Linked DNA regions of Homo sapiens: region 1 is linked to region 2. The links come from fine-mapping of genetic effects on gene expression. Tissue or cell type: whole blood. Region 2 holds a variant in brackets; the other region holds the start of a gene. All regions are shown on one strand. Distances are from middle to middle.

Evidence for each region. PIP is the estimated chance that this variant, and not a neighbour inherited with it, causes the effect.
Region 1: MED22 starts here. The variant in region 2 is fine-mapped to the expression of MED22 in whole blood (TOPMed, PIP 0.96).

What each region holds. Positions count from the first base shown.
Region 1 is chr9:133,344,979-133,352,978 of GRCh38, forward strand. MED22 (mediator complex subunit 22) reads right to left here and starts at 3,153. Exons shown (of 5, transcript NM_133640.5): 1 at 2,944-3,153; 2 at 1,562-1,722; 3 at 194-274. The coding sequence starts at 1,684. RPL7A (ribosomal protein L7a) reads left to right here and starts at 3,240. Exons shown (of 8, transcript NM_000972.3): 1 at 3,240-3,268; 2 at 3,944-4,064; 3 at 4,573-4,722; 4 at 4,934-5,074; 5 at 5,262-5,341; 6 at 5,619-5,749; 7 at 6,024-6,093; 8 at 6,284-6,448. The coding sequence starts at 3,266. The coding sequence ends at 6,388. SURF1 (SURF1 cytochrome c oxidase assembly factor) reads right to left here. Exons shown (of 9, transcript NM_003172.4): 6 at 7,716-7,788; 7 at 7,468-7,630; 8 at 7,083-7,164; 9 at 6,780-7,004. The coding sequence ends at 6,935. It overlaps SNORD24 (small nucleolar RNA, C/D box 24), which reads left to right and starts at 4,418; the gene lies at 4,418-4,492. It also overlaps SNORD36B, SNORD36A and SNORD36C. RefSeq lists enhancers at 726-1,229, 1,230-1,731, 3,036-3,330, 3,192-3,661.
Region 2 is chr9:133,319,602-133,329,445 of GRCh38, forward strand. It overlaps SURF6 (surfeit 6), which reads right to left. Exons shown (of 5, transcript NM_006753.6): 5 at 9,175-9,844. Among named protein-coding and RNA genes, the nearest start is that of SURF6, 12 kb to the right of the region's middle. The variant ACAGGTGGACAGGTG/A (reference allele first, on the strand shown) is at 4,524.

The sequences.
Region 1 (8,000 bases), 24 kb after region 2:
ATGATTTGCCCCCACCTCATTCTTTAAAGCTGCCGAGTGGTGAAACCAAAGCATCTCTACATTTGCCTCCTTCTGCTCCTTCTCGGGGGAAGAAGACCAGACCAGCCCCAGAGCCCCCTCCACTCCACCCAGGAAACCTGAGGGGACTGATGCTCTTGGAGCCCAGGCCGTGCCCTCCACCCTGGCCACTCACGATGTTGGCGGCTCGCACATGCATCTCGTAATTGTCCTGTTCACCCTGAGTGGCCCGTGACACCTGCGTCTCGTCCTCAATCTGGGGGAAAACAAGAAAACCTAGAAATCAACCCAGCCAAGGCATCCCCACCCCTGGCCCGGCCCAGCCCAGCTTACGGTAACTGTCATCTACCCAGGATGTCCACACTGGCCACAACCTGTCTGTGGTGCCATCTACAGACCTAAGCGCTGTCAGCCAGACCTCTGACAAGGTTCAATTCCACCCTCTCTTGTTCTGGCCATGGGAGACAACATGCACCTTTGCTCAAGACAAATAGAGGCAACCCACGCTGCTTGCTGTACTAGGTGCAGGGATGGGGGCTTATCTTGGCCCGGTCTTTTTGGGCTGTGGGAGCCCTGTTTGGTAGGAACCGTTGTCACTTGCTTGGCATTTGGTAAACTGTTGGATGAGTGAAGGGATGATTTAAGTTTTTTTTCGCGACCATTTCCTGATCACTTCCCAGGTGCCAGGCTGTGTCATGCACTTGACCACCATTAACCCATGCCAGTTTCACAGAAGCCTGGCCTGCCACCCCTGGTGTATAGGTGGCCAAGCGAGGCTGGATGGGGCTTCCCGGCAGGCCTTGCAAAGGCTCAGTTCGGGGTGGGTGTCAGGTACCCTCAGTGGTTAAGACCCAGACTTCGTGGGTTCAAATCCTGGCTCAGCCAGTTGTGAGCTGAGTGACCTTGGGCAAGTCACTAAGTCTCCTGGGCCTGGGTTTCCTCCTGAAATGAAGAGGACAACAGTGCCCACCTCACAGAGTCCTCATGAAGATTCAGCAGAACAGGCACAGATAACCTCACAACGTGGCTTGATACATGGCAAGCACTAAGTACATGCTAGCTTCCATCCTCATCATCATCGCTTATGGAGCCTGCCAGGTCTGCAGCAGCCAGGAGGGATCCAGCCCAATCTGATGCAGCTGTAGCTGCAGTGGTCAGCAGGCTTGCAGGCCCCAGTGCTGACCGCTCCACCTGCCTGGAGGCCCCCCCCCACTTCTCCCCTCAGTCTGCTTTTCTCCTGCTCATTGGCTGTGTGCCAGGCCCCGAGGTAACTGTTTTACACAGATAAACTCACCAGTCATCACAAGGACCCCACCATGCAGGAGAAACTGAGGCACTAAAAAGTGAAATCTCCATCCAAATCCATACTGTTAGTAAGGGCTGGACGTGCCATTATTTGGTTTGCTTATCTACTGACCAGCTCCCTGTGCACTGGGTGCTTCCTGCCTAGAACACTATTCACTCGCGCTGCTCAGCCCCTGGCCTCTCCTGTCTCCACCCCTTCTCAGACTCTGCTCCCCTTGGTGGGCCACCCCACCCCCACCTTGGCGGTCTTGATGATCTCGGTGAAGTTGTCCATGATGGACTTAATGTCGTCCTTCAGCCGCTTGTTGTAGGACTGCAGCAGCGTCTCCTTGCTCTGGGGCAGGGCTCTCTGCTGGGCCATGGCCGAGCCTCAAGCAGCGCAGCGGGGAGACCTGGGACCTAGAGTGCAGCACAGACCTCTGAGTGCAGGCAGAGTCTACCCCAGCCACCCTCTATGCCCCAACCTTAGCAGAACACGCAGATTTCTGGGGATTCCCTTTCTGCCAAATAAAGTCAATCACTGAAACACAGATGAACTCATTCCATCAGCAGACACCGCAGGGGGTGCCAGGACTGGCCCCGCCTTTGCCAGAGCAAGCTCATCCTGGAACTCCTGGCCAGCCCTCCAAGCCCTGTCCAGGGCTCCAGTCCAGACTTCACGTCCAGGCCCACAGCGTGTCCCAGGGAGCCCTGCAAACTCAACACCAGCTCCCCGTCCCCAGCCCTTGGCTTAACTTCTTAGCCCGCCGCCACCTTCGCCACGCCCTCCCATCCGAAGAGTCCTTCCAATTCGACCCCTCTGCACCGCCTACATCCACGCTTTCCTTCCACTCCCACTCAGGCTGCCCCGCTCCAGACCTCATCCCTGCACTGCGGGCCCCGCTCCCTCCAGTCTCTGCGCGGCAGGGAAGAGGTCCTAAAAAGTGGTCATTCCAACCGGGCGCGGTGGCTCACGCCTGTAATCCCAGCACTTTGGGAGGCCGAGGCAGGGATCACCTGAGGTCAGGAGTTTGAGACTAGCCTGACCAACATGGTGAAACCCCAACTCTACTAAAAATACAAAAATTAGCCGGGCGTGATGGCAGGCGCCTGTAATCCCAGCTACTCGGGAGGCTGAGGCAGGAGAATCGCTTGAACCCGGGAAGCACAGGTCGCAGTGAGCCGAGATCGCGCCACTGCACTCCAGCCTGGGCGACAGGGGGAGACTACGTCTCCAAAAGAAAAAAAAAAGGGGGGTAATTCCACTCCCTCGCTTAACATCCCTCATGGTTCCCCGGTGCGCCGGGACAAGGGGCTCAAGTTCCGCGCCGCGCCTCTCGGCCTCTGCCCTCCAGCCGCACTGGACGGCCTCGGCGCTGGAGTTGCCTGGCCCTGGGGCCGGGCCTTTGCGCGCGGTGCTCAGGGAGGGCCCGGGGCCCCCTAGGTTCGGAGTCTGGCGCACGACCGAGCGGACTCCTGGACGCACTCGCATTGTTTGTGCCCATTTTTGGCGGGGTGTGGGAAATAAGTCACACGCAGGAAAGGGGATCTCCGACCCCAGCGCCTACGCACCCACCCACCCCCACTCCCGCCCACACACCCACCCCCCCTCCATCCCCACCCCCCACCACACCCTCATACCCGCCCCAGCGCCCGCACACCAGACGCCGCGTCCGCCGGGTCGGCCTAGGGCGGGGTGGTCAAGTGCCTCTGCGACCCGCACTTTCCCGCGTCTCTCCCACGGCCTGGCCCTCCCGCCGCAGTCTCTCTTCCCCGCCGCGCCGCGGTCCGAAAACCTAGTCAGCCGCCGCAGCCTCTCGGCCCCGCCTCGATTTTTAGCTTTATAGGAATGCTGTTGCTTTAAATCCGAAATCCCGTGCCGGTATCAACTCTCGCGATCTCCGAGGCCGCATACATATTACCCACAATTCCCTTTCCTTTCTCTCTCCTCCCGCCGCCCAAGATGGTGAGTGAGCTGTAGTTCCGTGGCACTATAGCCAGGTTCCGGCTGTATCCGCTGCCATCCTCCTCCAGGCGCGGCCTCGGAGGGCCTCCTGCTCCTCCTGGCGCTAGGAGAGCCCCACTCGGTGTGGCACGGAGACACCGAGGTGGATTAGAGCCCCACTTGGTGTGGCACGGAGACATTGAGATGGACTAGAGCCCCGGGCGGCCGAGAGCGGAATGCGTTGTTCCCGGTGTCGCAGGGCTGGGTGTCGCAGGCCTGGAGCACCGCAGTGCGGGGCTCGGAGCCCTAGCGTCTCTCGGGCTTGCTGGGGGCCGCTCCAGAGGCCTTGTGAGCGACGAGTTCTGAGCCCGCCCCTGTTGCTTCTAGAGCCTGTGGGGCCGCGACTCAGAGGAGTCATGAGTCCGGGGTGTCTCCTGGGTGGGCGACGCGAAGAGAGCGTGGTCTCGGGCTTAGCCTTGCTCTGGCCACTCGGGGTTCCCGGGGCTGCATGCTTGTGCGGCTGAATGTGAGATGCTCCTGTCGAGGGGTGGTGCTGGGGGGTTGCAGAAAGCTGCTCGCCAGCTTAGTTCAGGCAGGTGCTGTCAGCGTCCCTTGTTTTGGAGGAGCCAGCCTGAGCCCTACCCCCGACGAAGCGAGTGGAGGCGGCGGTTTAACTGACGTTTTCTTTCTGCCCAGCCGAAAGGAAAGAAGGCCAAGGGAAAGAAGGTGGCTCCGGCCCCAGCTGTCGTGAAGAAGCAGGAGGCTAAGAAAGTGGTGAATCCCCTGTTTGAGAAAAGGCCTAAGAATTTTGGCATTGGTAAGTAACAAACGGCAGAATGAAAACGGTCTATGTTTTTCTCAAGGGAAGGTGGTAATTGGGTTGTGTTGTATCTTGTAGGTTTTAGTGGGTGTAAAGTGGTCGCAGTCCTTAATTTGTGTCTCTTAGAGACGGGGGCAATGATACATGCTTCTTGCTTTCATTGGGAGTTGCTGAGCGAGCATTCAGCTCAATATGGTAGTGGCCTTGAATTCAGCTTAGCCATCTGGAAACAAGTACAGTAGCAGTGTCGCAGCGAGGTACTAGGACTGCAATTCTGCTGTACTTCGTGGCACCTTGGCTTCTTGTTAGATGAGGAAAAGCATCGTGCTCTTTGTTCTCAGGTGTTTGTGTGCAGATGATGTAAAAGAATATTTGCTATCTGAGAGATGGTGATGACATTTTAAACCACCAAGATCGCTGATGCACCAACACCCTTCCTAGTGGCCCCAGACATGAACTTGACATGGAATTTGAGCCTCACTCGGTGTCACCCTTTACTTCTCAGGACAGGACATCCAGCCCAAAAGAGACCTCACCCGCTTTGTGAAATGGCCCCGCTATATCAGGTTGCAGCGGCAGAGAGCCATCCTCTATAAGCGGCTGAAAGTGCCTCCTGCGATTAACCAGTTCACCCAGGCCCTGGACCGCCAAACAGGTGAGGTTCTGTGGCGTGGAAAGGAGTTTCTCAGGCAAGGATTCCTTATTTCATCCAGAACATGAGGGGGATGGTCTTAGGCTTCTTGAACTGCAGTTGTCATTAAATTATAGTCATATAGCAGGACCGCAGTCCAGCATTTGTTATTAAGTGTTAAGTGACAAGGATTAGAACCTTGACTCCAAGCCTAAACTGAAGAGTGTTTTTCCAGCTACTCAGCTGCTTAAGCTGGCCCACAAGTACAGACCAGAGACAAAGCAAGAGAAGAAGCAGAGACTGTTGGCCCGGGCCGAGAAGAAGGCTGCTGGCAAAGGGGACGTCCCAACGAAGAGACCACCTGTCCTTCGAGCAGGTGAGTAGGCCCCACCTTAGGGTGAACACTGGGGGCGGGCTGTTGCAGTGATGTAAAATTTCTTGGCCTGAAATTACTGTGAAGAGTAAAACCGAGCTTTTTAACACTGAGTCAGCAGCTGAGCCCAGCAGCTTCTTGTGACTAGAGCAGGCCCTGTGAGTGCTCACAAAGTGGTTGTGTGTTCTAGGAGTTAACACCGTCACCACCTTGGTGGAGAACAAGAAAGCTCAGCTGGTGGTGATTGCACACGACGTGGATCCCATCGAGGTGCGTTTGCCTGTTGACTGCTAACCCAAGGGCTTCTGGCAGTACCAGGAAGAGAGAGTAGACCTAATGCCAAGTCAGTGATGGGACCGAAGTGGGTGAGGGCAGTACTGACACAGATCCAACACATGCGTGGCTCTTGCAATGATGTGAATCTCTCACTGAATTCAACCTTGAAGTGCGAATCCATGAGCTTTTTAACCCTGAGCAATTGTTACAAGCTAACTGAAATTTGCTGCTTTTGGTCAAAATACAGTCTTCAGCTAATGCTTTCTTCCAGCTGGTTGTCTTCTTGCCTGCCCTGTGTCGTAAAATGGGGGTCCCTTACTGCATTATCAAGGGAAAGGCAAGACTGGGACGTCTAGTCCACAGGAAGACCTGCACCACTGTCGCCTTCACACAGGTGAACTCGTAAGTACACAGCCTGGCCCCAAACTTCCCCCCAGTTCATTTAATCCATGCCTCACAGTTGTTTCCTTTTGCCTTAAAGGCCAATCTTTTAGTTTAAGAAATATATTTATCTGAACTTTTGCCAATGATGGTTAAGAATTTCTTCACCTGAATAAACCATGTGGTCAGCATTGCATCTGAGGCAAAAGACTGTCTTGAGCTAAAAGGTATTTTTGCATTCTAAAAGGGAAACTAAGGCAAAAAACCCACTTTTGTTTCCCCTCCTGCCTTTTAGGGAAGACAAAGGCGCTTTGGCTAAGCTGGTGGAAGCTATCAGGACCAATTACAATGACAGATACGATGAGGTAAGAGGCAGCTTTACACCAAAATACTGTCATTCACAAATCTTTCTCCCAAATAACTGGCTGGCTTAACCTATGAGAAGTTCTATCTGACGATCAGCTTGGAACAGCCAAACAGAATTAACGCAACTAATAACCTTGAAAATCTCAGAAAACAGTAAGCCAAGCTAACTGCCTCTTTTTGTCTTTTCAGATCCGCCGTCACTGGGGTGGCAATGTCCTGGGTCCTAAGTCTGTGGCTCGTATCGCCAAGCTCGAAAAGGCAAAGGCTAAAGAACTTGCCACTAAACTGGGTTAAATGTACACTGTTGAGTTTTCTGTACATAAAAATAATTGAAATAATACAAATTTTCCTTCAGCCAGTGTCTGTTGAGTATCTCGGGTTGAATCTTACTTGGGGTTAGCAAGTATCTTTTTGAGACACAGCCTCACTCTGTCGCCCAGGCTGGAGTGCAGTGGTGTGATGTCAAAGCAACCTTCGCCTCCCAGGTTTAGGATATTCTGGTGCCTCAGCATCCCAACTGGCTGGCCCATATTTGTGTTTTTGGTAGAGATGGGGTTTCACCATGTTAGCCAGGCTGGTCTGAGCTCCTGACCGCACCCGGCCCTTCCCACCCTTAAATACATTCTTAAACCAGGCATTTTGTTCCCTAGAGATGTAACTTGAGTATCAAGTTTTGGGAAAGTTCTTTGGACTGAAACCAAGCCAGGATTTTATGATGAACCAGTCATGAGCTCATTTAAGGTAGAAGGCCAGAACTTTATACCAGTAGCACATGATCCAGCATAAAGGCAGTCTTGAAATACTGCATTATCCAGGGACAGGGCTTCAGCAGCTGATCTGTCACACACCAGGTGTCCCACGTAGGAATTTCTTAAACCACAGGTAGGATGTAGCTGCAGAGAGTCCATACCTAGGGGTTGAAAGCAAGCCAGCATTAGCAGGCTGCTAGGCTGAAGGGGAGGAAGCCAGAGGGCCGCTGGGGACTCACCAGGTCACGATGTACTGCAGATGCTCGTTCCTCAGAGTAACTCTGGTTTGCCCTCCAATGGGTCCTCCAGGGACTGTGCTCTCTGTGGAGACAGCAGACTCAAGTCCACCCCCTACTGGCCTGCCAGCCTCTGCACCACTTCCTAGTGGCTGTCATTTTTGCGTGGCCAGTTGGAAGTCCTGTATGGCCTTTACGTTGGGTGACCATCCCCGCCCTTGTCCGCTCAGTACTTGCCTAGGTTCTTTGCTGAGTTGCTGCCTCCTCCCACCCGCCATATACACATGTGAGAACATAAGCCACAGTAGTGACTGGGCAATGAGGGTTAGGAGGAAGGACAGTATTCACAAAAGCTACTTGTTCCGAGATGGGCTGGTCCACAACGTACGGAAGTTGGCATCAATGAAGATGGGCTCTGCGCCTGTGATTCTGGCCATAGCTTCCAGGTCTCGATAATGCCAGTGGTTCCTTTCTGGATTGTTCTCAGGGACAAAAGGCTGCCTGGTTTCTGTCAGCCTCACCATCCCAATGAGGTCCACTTCTCCCTCAATCTATAAAGGAAGGTGTGTGAGATTGCATGGAGCCTGGTGGACTCCCAGAGCCTTCTCTAAAGTAGGAAGAGTCCATGTCCCTTACCTGGCCTTTCTGCCGGGTTTCAGGATTCACTTTCTTCCTGGGAACGAACCCTCTATTTACCAGGATGGTGACTCTAGGGTAATGAAAGTGCTACTTCAGGTGGGGAGGGTTTTTGACTAAAGACAGTCACTCATGGTCACTCAGGCACCCATAGGAACAACTAGAGCACCAAGGAAGGCTTTTAAAACAGGGCTGGCTCAGTGGAGCCCTGGCAGTGCCACACAGGCAAAGTCTTCCTCTCTTGAGGCACCTTCGTGGTTGGTAAAAGGCTCCCTGCCACCATCA
Region 2 (9,844 bases):
TTTAGGTCAGGAGTTCAAGACCAGCCTCACCAAGATGGTGAAACCCTGTCTCTACCAAAAATACAAAAATTATCCAGGCATCGTGGCATGCACCTGTAGTCCCAGCCACTCAGGAGGCTGAGGCAGGAGAATCACTTAAGCCTGGGAGGCGGAGGTTGCAGTGAGCCGAGACTGTGCCACTGCACTCCAGCCTGGGCGACAGAGTGAGACTCTGTCTCAAAAAGAAAAGAAAGAAAAAAAAATCCATGGCAGACAGAGGCCCTGCAGTGGGATCGGGGTGAAAGTCCAGCATCTGTGACCTCAGACGTGTCACATCCTTGCTCATCACAGCTTCAGCATCGATCACACTGGCATTCATTCATTCAAGAGACATTTGCTGGCTGGGCGCAGAGGCTCACACCTGTAATCCCAGCACTTTGGGAGGCCAAGACCAGTGGATCACCTGAAGTCAGGAGTTCAAGACCAGCCTGCCCAACATGGTGAAACCCTGTCTCTACTAAAAATACAAAAATGTTAGCTGGGCGTGGTGTCAGGCACCTGTAATCCCAGCTACTCGGGAGGCTGAGGCAGGAGAATCACTTGATCCTGGGAGGTGGAGGTTGCAGTGAGCCAAGATAGCACCATTGCACTCCAGCCTGGGCAACGAGAGCGAAACTCTGTCTTAAAAAAAAAAAAGAGAGAGAGAGAATTGCTGAACGCCCACTAAGTGCCAGGCACCATTCTGGTTGCGGCCTCATTGCTGAATAATGCGGGCAGAAACCCCAACTCCGTGGAGTGCCTGCTTGGTGAGAAGACTCCCTTGTAGAACTCTGTGAGGGTCAGAGACGATGGATGGGAGGTCCTGCCAGGAGGAGGCGCTCAGGAAGTTTCTTCGCTGCTCCTCCCCACTCCTTCACTCCTTTCTTGTTGCTCCTCTTTCAGGCCTGGGTGTTTGGGGAGCTTCATTCTCTCATTCCACAGATATGCCTGCAGTGCCCCGCCTGGCCTGTGCTGAGCCTGGTCCAGGTTTGTTGAATGCAGACGTGCTCAGAGAGGTCATTCCGGCTGCTGGTCACTGGGAACTCCGTTGCATCTGCCTCGGGCCCAGGTGCCCCCCTTTCACTGGAGCATCAGCGAAGAGCAGTCACCCCCCTCCCCGCCCTGGGTATGGCAGGCCCAGGCTGCAGAGCTTTCTTCGTGAAAAAGGAGCTAAACATGATCAAGATCTTGCCACGGCCCAGGCAGGAGTCTCACCACACTGCTGGTGTCATCTCATGAGACTGCACAACAAACCTTCGCAGCAGGTCCCCGAGTGTACCCTTTCACAGCTATGGACAGGACCCAAAAGTCTGAGTCGAGCGTGTGTGTCACTACCCTGTATGTGGATTCACAGCCTCTGGCTATCTTAGAAGGTCCTTCCCCCATGGCCTGGCTCTGCCCGTGAACCGTTGAATGTCTCTGCTCCCTTTGCCACTTCCGCCTTCCTGATACTGGGGAACCAGGTCATCTCTCTACTCTTTCCTGGAATCTTCTCTTTTCCAAGGATCATGGTGACTGAGAAACTGAGGAGCTGCACAGGCCCAAGACAAGCCCTCTCCCACCAGCCCACAAATGTACTGCCCATGGGCCGGGCATGGTGGCTCATGCCTATAATCCCAGCACTTTGGGAGGCCGAGGCGGGCGGATCACCTGAGGTCAGGAGTTCGAGACCAGCCTGGCCAACATGGTGAAACCCCATCTCTACTAAAAATATAAAAATTAGCCGGGTGTGGTGGTGTGCACCTGTAATAGCCACTCAGGAGGCTGAGGCAGGAGCATCGCTTGCACCTGGGAGACAGAGGTTGCAGTGAGCTGAGATCGCACCACTGCACTCCATTCTGGGTGACAGAACAAGAGTCCATTTCAAAAAAATAAAAAATGTACTGTCCATGTTTACTGATGACTTTATGTAGTTAGTGGATCCTGCCAGCACAGCCACAGTTCCTGCTGATCTCTGTCCCGCAGTTGACCACCCCGTCTGTGTTTTTGCCCCAGCCTGTATTGCTGGGCTTGAGTCTTCTGTCCTCACGACCCTCACCGGGGACTCAGACACAGCCCTTCTGCTCTGGGGACATGTCAGTCCTTGGCCTGAGCGTCCAGGCTCTGCGCGGCCCCGTTGTCCTTACAGGGACTCCGTCCCTGGGGAAACTTCCCACGTGTCAGAACCTTCCCTTCCTTTGTTTGAGAAAACAAAAAATTCTTCCTCTCTTGACCAGGAGCAGTGGCTCACGCTGGTAATCCCAGCACTTTGGGAGGCCGAGACAGGAGAATTGCTTGAGGCCAGGAGTTCAAGACCAACATAGCAAGATCCCATCTGTTTATAGATCTATATCTATGTATCATCTCTCTATATAGTACATGTAATATGTATATAATATATAATAATCATATATATAATTCTTCCTTTTTTGCGGGGGGAGGGGGTTGGAGTCTCACTCTGTCACCCAGGCTGGAGTGCAGTGGCATGATCTAGGCTCACTGCAACCTCCCCGTCCTGGTTCAAGCGATTCTCCTGTCTCAGCCTCCCAAGTAGCTGGAACTACAGGCATGTGCCACCGCATCTGGCTAATTTTTGTATCTTTTTTTTTTTTTTTTTTTTGAGATGGAGTTTCACTCTGTCGCCCAGGCTGGAGTGCAATGGTGGGATCTCAGCTCACTGCAACTTCCGCCTCCCTGGTTCAAGTGATTCTCCTGCCTCAGTCTCCCAAGCAGCAGGGATTAGGCGCCTGCCACCACACCTGGCTAATTTTTTGTATTTTCAGTAGAGATGGGGTTTCACCATGTTAGCCAGGCTGGTCTTGAACTCCTGACCTCAGGTGATCCGCCCGCCTCGGCCTCCCCAAGTGTTGGGATTACAGGCGTGAGCCACTGTGCCTGGCCAATTCTTCCTTTCTTGAATGCCCTTTTCTGCCATCCTAATTTTCCCATCGTTCAGGGTCAAGGTTGATGCTCACCTTCCCCAGTAAGCCCTCCCTGATGTCTTCCCAATTCCTGTGGGGTAAGCAGGGCAGCTCAGTGGCTGAAGGCACATGCGTCACAGCCAGGAAGCCCTGGTTTTCGCTCTGACCCCACTGCTTCTGGCTGACCCTGGAGAAGCCATCCACGCTGAGCTGCAGAAGGGCCACTACAGCCTGTGTGCAGCCCTCACAAGGCGTATACGGGAATTACTGCAGCGATACGGGGGATTCCTCGAGGAGCTCACTGAGCATGCAGGTGTTACACCCCAGAGCGCGCTGAAATCATTCAAATGAGCCAAGCCTAAGCCTCCCTACCGCCTCGCCCACCCCCTCCCATGGAAACCACATTACGGGCTTCACCCACAGTTCTGCCCTCTCCTGCCTCCTGACCGACTCCAGCACTTCCCCGTGTGGCCCTGTGTGGCTTGGGGTACCCCTTCTCCTGGAAACTGTCGTAAACTATCCTTTCAATGGCAATTATCTCCTGATCTGGTGGCCTTACTGAACCTCAAATTTTCAATAAATACGTTGTTTTTTAAGCCAGGCTTAATAGCATGCACTTGTGGTCTCAGCTACTTGGGAGGCTGAGGTGGGAGGATCGCTTGAGGCCAGGAGTTTGTGGCCGCAGTGCAGTATAATTGCACCTGTGAAGAGCCACTGCACTCCAGCCTGGGCAACGCAGGGAGACCCTGTGTCCAAAAAATAATTATTATATTTTAAAGACAAGCAGACTATGCATGGAGTCCCGAGGGTGAACAGGTGTCGGGGGGCAGCGGGAGCGTGGAGAAAGCCGGGAGGAGGTGGGAACAGGAAACCCTCAGGGTCACACCCCAGAAGGAGAAGGCCCTAGCCTGAATGGGACTGCTGGGAAGGGGCTGAACACCAGCAGGGAGTGGAGCTGCGGAAACACACACGGAAGTGGGGCATGGGTGCTGGGTGGACACTCCACTTCCAGATAAGAGGGGATCTTGTGGATGGTGGTGGAGGCGCTCCTGGCCCTACTGGGCTCCGGCACTCAGCCTGCCCTGCCACAGAGGCAGCCCATACTAGAGGCTACTGCACGTCAGGAGAGGGGCAGGCTCAAAACCAGAAAAGTTATACTCTGGGCTCTGCCAGCCCCACCCTCCCAATCCAGGAAACCCAATTCATCCAAATATGAGTATCAATATCCACCCAAAGATACCAGAGGGAAAAAAGAAACCTAAAAGGAGCGGGTGGCCAGTGCAGTGCTCACTCCTGAATCCCAGCACTTTGGGAGGCTGAGGCGGGAGGATCGCTTAAGCCCAGGAGGTCAAGACTGCAGTGAGTTGTGACTATGTCACTGCACTCCAGCCCAGGCAACAAAGCAAGACCCTGTCTCAAAAACAAACAAACAAAAAGGGAACAGCAAGACTTCCCTGCAGATGAAGAAAACACAGAGAAAACCACTGCCACAAAGCCAAGTGAAAGTGGCAAGCCAGCGGGCAGCCCCATGATGCAGCTGGGGAAGTGGCCAGGGGAGTGGCTGCAGCGGAAATGGCCATGGGGAACTCTGCGGCCCCAGGAAGA[ACAGGTGGACAGGTG/A]CTGGTGGAACTTAGGAAGGACTGGAAGCAAAGGCCACAGACACAAGTCTAGAGATGCTGTGGAAAGTGCAGCCAGGAAGAAACAGGGACGTGAAGAGGCACAACAGCAGCAGAGCAAGCAGGCAGGAGAGGCGGTGGCGGGGGAGGCAGCAGCAGGGGAAGCAGCGGTGGGGAGGCAGCAGCAGGCAGGTCCTTGGCTGGCAGGGCAGAGCCAAGACAGGACAGACTCCAAGGTAGAAGTCCAGACAACTTTGCTAAAACAAACGAATTGAGGCGGAGCATTACTGCTGAGCTTTGCCTCCTGTCAGATCAGCGGTGGCATTAGATCTTCATAGAAGTGCAAACCCTACTGTGAACTGCGCATGCGAGGGATCTAGGTTGCTCACTCCTAATGAAAATCTAATGCCTGATGATCTGAAGTGGCACAGTTTCATCCCCAAACCATCCCTCCCACCACCCCTACTGTCCATGGAAAAATTGTCTTCCAAGAAACCAGTCACTGGGGCAAAAAATGTTGGTCAAAAGTACCGCTGTACTAGAGTGAATTTTAGTTAACTGAGAGATGATCACAGATAGTAAGAGGAACAGGGAGTGAGCACTCACATATTCAACTAGAGGACAGGGACCGAGATAAAAACAGCAGCAAGTTGTGATGGGTACGTACGGTGTGTTCCCTGCCAAATCCACACACTGATGTCTTAACCCCAAGCACCACAGAACGTGACCTTGTTTGGAAATGGTGTCACTGCAAATGTTATTAGTTAAGATGAGGTCACTAAGGTGGGCTCTAATCCAATGTGACTGGTGTCCTTATTATAAGAAGAGGCAATCAGGACCCACAGACAGGCACAGGGGGAAGATGAGAGGATGCTGTTTGCAGGCCAAGGACAGCACCCAGGAACAGCCTTCACTCAGGGTCCTCAGAAGAAACCAACCCTGCTGATGTCTGGACTGGACCCCTGCCCTCCAGAGCTGTGAACAATGAATTCCTCTCACCTAAGCTGCTCTGCGGTGCTTTGTTAATGGCAGCCCTAGCAAACTCATACACAAAGGTAACAGAATGTGTAAAAAAACAATTTTACAAAGGCAGCTATAACAGTATGAGACAAGAAAGCAGAGAGAGGATGGAAAATAGAATCGCCCTGCTGATTCCTTCATATTATAGTTGGATTCTAAAGACATCACTTAATGCTGACAAACTGAGAAGTTTAGCATATTAAAGAGGACAGAGGCAAATACTAAGAAATATAATAGTATTCATTCAAAAAATGGGTGGGCCGGGCATGGTGGCTCACACCTGTAATCCCAGCACTTTGGGAGGCCGAGGCAGGTGGATCACCTGAGGTCAGGAGTTCGAGACCAGCCTGGCCAACATGGTGAAATCCATCTCTACTAAAAATACAAAAATTAGCCAGGCTTGGTGGCGCGCATCTGTAATCCCAGCTACTAGGGAGGCTGGAGCAGGAGAATCGCCTGAACCTGGGAGGTAGAGGTTGCAGTGAGCTGAGATGGCGCCATTCCACTCCAGCCTGGGTGACAGAGCGAGGCCTGTCTCAAAAAAAAAAACAAAAAAAACCATGGGTGGTAGAAAAGAGAGAGAAGGGAGAGAGGGGAAAGGTTTACAAATTATTTCATAGTAGGGAACTATGAGAACTCTTTTAAAGGTTGAGGGGACTAAAGATATTATTTAAGGGTATGAACAGTAAGTAGCAACTAGACCCAAAAAAAATCAAGCCTTCCTAAAAACCAGAAGAGCTACATTTTTTAAGAGCAAATGCAGATTAAGTAATGACTATATGTAGTAAATGTGAAATAAAACAATTTCAAAAAGAACAAAGTTGGAAGACTCATGCTACCCGATTTCAACACTTACTATAGAGCTGCAGTGATTAAGACGGTGTGGCGCTGGCGAAAGGTTCAGGGGAACAGAACACACAGTTTAGAAATAGACCTACACAGATTTATGGCCAATTGATTTCAGATGAAGGTACAAGGGCAATTCTACGAAGACAGTCTTTTCAGCAACTGGTCCTGGAACACTGGACATCTTTATGCAAAAACGAACCTTCAAAATGGTTATGCCATTTTATTTATTTATTTATTTACTATTTTTTGAGATGGAGTCTTGCTCTGTCTTCCAGGCTGGAGTGCAGTGGCGACAGCTCGGCTCACTGCAACCTCCGTTTCCCAGGTTCAAGTGATTCTCCTGTCTCAGCCTCCCAAGTAGCTGGGATTACAGGCACCTGCCACCACGCCCGGCTAATTTTTATATTTTTAGTAGAGATGGATTTCACCATCTTGGTCGGGCTGGTCTTGAACTCCTGAGCTCAAGTGATCCACCTGCCTCGGCCTCCCAAAGTGCTGGGATTACAGGAGTGAGGCACCACGCCCGGCCACAAGTCCTTTATTATACTGTATGTTTTACAAATATTTTCTCCCACTGTGAGCCTTTTTATCTGTTTTCCTAATTTTTAATTTTTGATGAAGTGCAATAATTGACAGAATGAATAGATAGAAAATTGGCACCAGGTGCAGTGGCTCACGCCTGTAATCCCAGCACTTTGGGAGGCCGAGGAAGGCAGATCACCTGAGGTCGGGAGTTCGAGACCAGCCTGACCAACATGGAGAAACCCCATCTCTATTAAAAATACAAAATTAGCCGGGCATGGTGGCGCATGCCTGTAATCTCAGCTACTCAGGAGGCTGACAGGAGAACTGCTTGAACCCAGGAGACAGAGGTTGCAGTGAGCCAAGACCGCGCCATTGCACTCCAGCCTGGGCAACAAGAGCAAAACTCTGTCTCAAGAAAAAAAAAAGAAAGAAAGAAAGAAAAAAGAAAAGAAAATTGGCAAGGATACAGAACTTGAACTCCACTGGACCTGACATTAAAACACTTGACTCAACAAGAGCAGAAAACATTCTTCTCGAGCACACACAGAACATTTACCAGGAGAGACCACAGTCTGGGCTATGAAACAAACCCTGTTAACTTCAAAAAGATTCAAGTGGTTTTTTGTTGTTTTTTGATACACGGTCTCACTCTGTTGCCCAGGCTGGAGTGCAGTGGCAGGAACATGGCTCACTGCAGCCTCAACCTCCTGGGCTCAAGTGATCCTCCCACCTCAGCTTTCTGAGTAGCTGGGACTATAGGCATAGGCGTGGGCAACCGCCCCAGGGTGATTTTTTAAATTTTTTTGTAGAGACAGGGTCTCGCTGCATTGCCCAGGCTGACCTCAATCTCCTGGGCTCAAATGATCCTCCTGCCTCAGCCTCCCAGTATCGGGATTACAGGTGTGAGCCACCACGCCCCAGCCAAGGACTCAAGTTATACAAAGTATGTTCTCTGACCACAATGAAATTCAACTAGAAATCAGTAACAGAAAGATCTCTGGTAAATTCCCAAATATTTGGAAACTAAATGACATACCTTTAAATAACTCATTAGCCAAAGAATAAATCAAAGGGAAATTAGCAAGTATTTTGAACTGAATGAAAACACAACATATGAAAATTCGTCAGGTATCACAAAAGCAGACTGAACTTTTTAGACCTTACAAATGCATGACTGTCCCCCTTGCCTCTGATCTTCTGCCTGGGGTCTGCCTTTCCCCAATCTTTGTTCACTATACTGAATCCTACATGACACAGTCAACCTATGAAGAAATCCAGAGATAGACTCTCTAAAATAAATGGATTTGGGAATAGCAGCTTATCTGGAATACTGCAACCGTTGAGGATGGTCTTGCAGTGAGTCCTGTTATTGGTCTGTTTGTAGAAATGTCTTGTGGTAAGTCCTGTTGCAGGAATGTGTGCGTGAGGGCTGCTTCATCACCTCCAACTGTTTTAGTTTGACATAAGTGACTCCATTTTGGTACCGGCAACGTTCACAACTTTCCATGTGACTTCAGCACCCTGCACCCCGATCCTTTCCCTGGCCACTTTGCAGGACCACTACCTATGAGACTATGGGTTCCTTGAGAGCTAGGGCTGGGTCTCATTCGCTCCTGAAACTTTCACCCAGCAGAGTGATGGCCCACGCCATGCATGACATGCGTTGCTCAATGACTGCATCCACTCAGCCAGTATGCCAGTCCCCACTGAGCCTCACTCTCAACCTCCCTGGCTGGCATAGGTTCCTTGTGCAGACATCCAGTGGCAGTAAAATATTGCTGGGTTCTCAGCTTCCCCCACCTGCAGCCCTCACTGGCCCACCCAGTTGTCCTGTCTCTGCTCAGGACGAGACCCCCCCCCGCCTCTTCAGTCTCTGTAGCCAGGTGATGGCAGTGGCCTTTTCCAGACCCTCACTGGCCCCTTAGTTCACTATGATGACTTCACCTCTTGGGAACCCATGGGGATGTCTTTCCCTCCAATACATCTACATTTGCCTGACCCAGAATGTAGTTTCAAGATGGGTCCATGCCTGGCTCCAAATCCCCTTATCAGAGTAAGGAAATACCTTAATTCCTAGTTTGCTAAAAACTCGTTATAAATGGCTGTCGCGTCATTTACTGTGTTCCTGTTCTGCAACCATTGAGATGGTCACGTGGGTTTTGCTCCTTTAATCTATTGATATGAATTACACTCTTGATTCTCTGGCATTGAAACTGCTTTGCAATTCTGAATTAAATCCAGTGTGGCACTTTGCTAAACTTGGTTTATTATTGTCTAAAATCTTGACATTGGTATTTGTAGGGACCAGCCCCACAGGGTCCGTGGGTCTCTCCCTCCCTGTGTGCAGCAATGAGAGAGTGTAGAAATACACACACAAGACAAAGAGATAAAAGAAAAGGCAGCTGGGCCCGGGAGACCACTACTACCAATGCTCGGAGACCGGTAGTGGCCCCGAATGTCTGGCTGCATTGTTATTTATTGGATACAAAGCAAAAGGGGCAGGGTAAAGAGTGTGAGTCATCTCCAATGATAGGTAAGGTCACGTGGATCACGTGTCCACTGGACAGGGTGCCCTTCCCTGCCTGGCAGCCGAGGCAGAGAGAGAGAGGAGACAGAGAGAAAGACAGCTTATGCCATTACTTCTGCATATCAGAGACTTTTAGTACTTTCACTAATTTACTACTGCTATCTAGAAGGCAGAGCCAGGTGTACAGGATGGAACATGAAGGCGGACTAGGAGCGTGACCACTGAAGCACAGCATCACAGGGAGACGGTTAGGCCTCCAGATAACTGCGGGCAGGCCTGCCGGATGTCAGGCCCTCCACAAGAGGTGGAAGAGCAGAGTCTTCTCTAAACTCCTCCAGGGAAAGGGACACTCCCTTTCCCGGTCTGCTAAGTAGCGGGTGTTGTTCCTT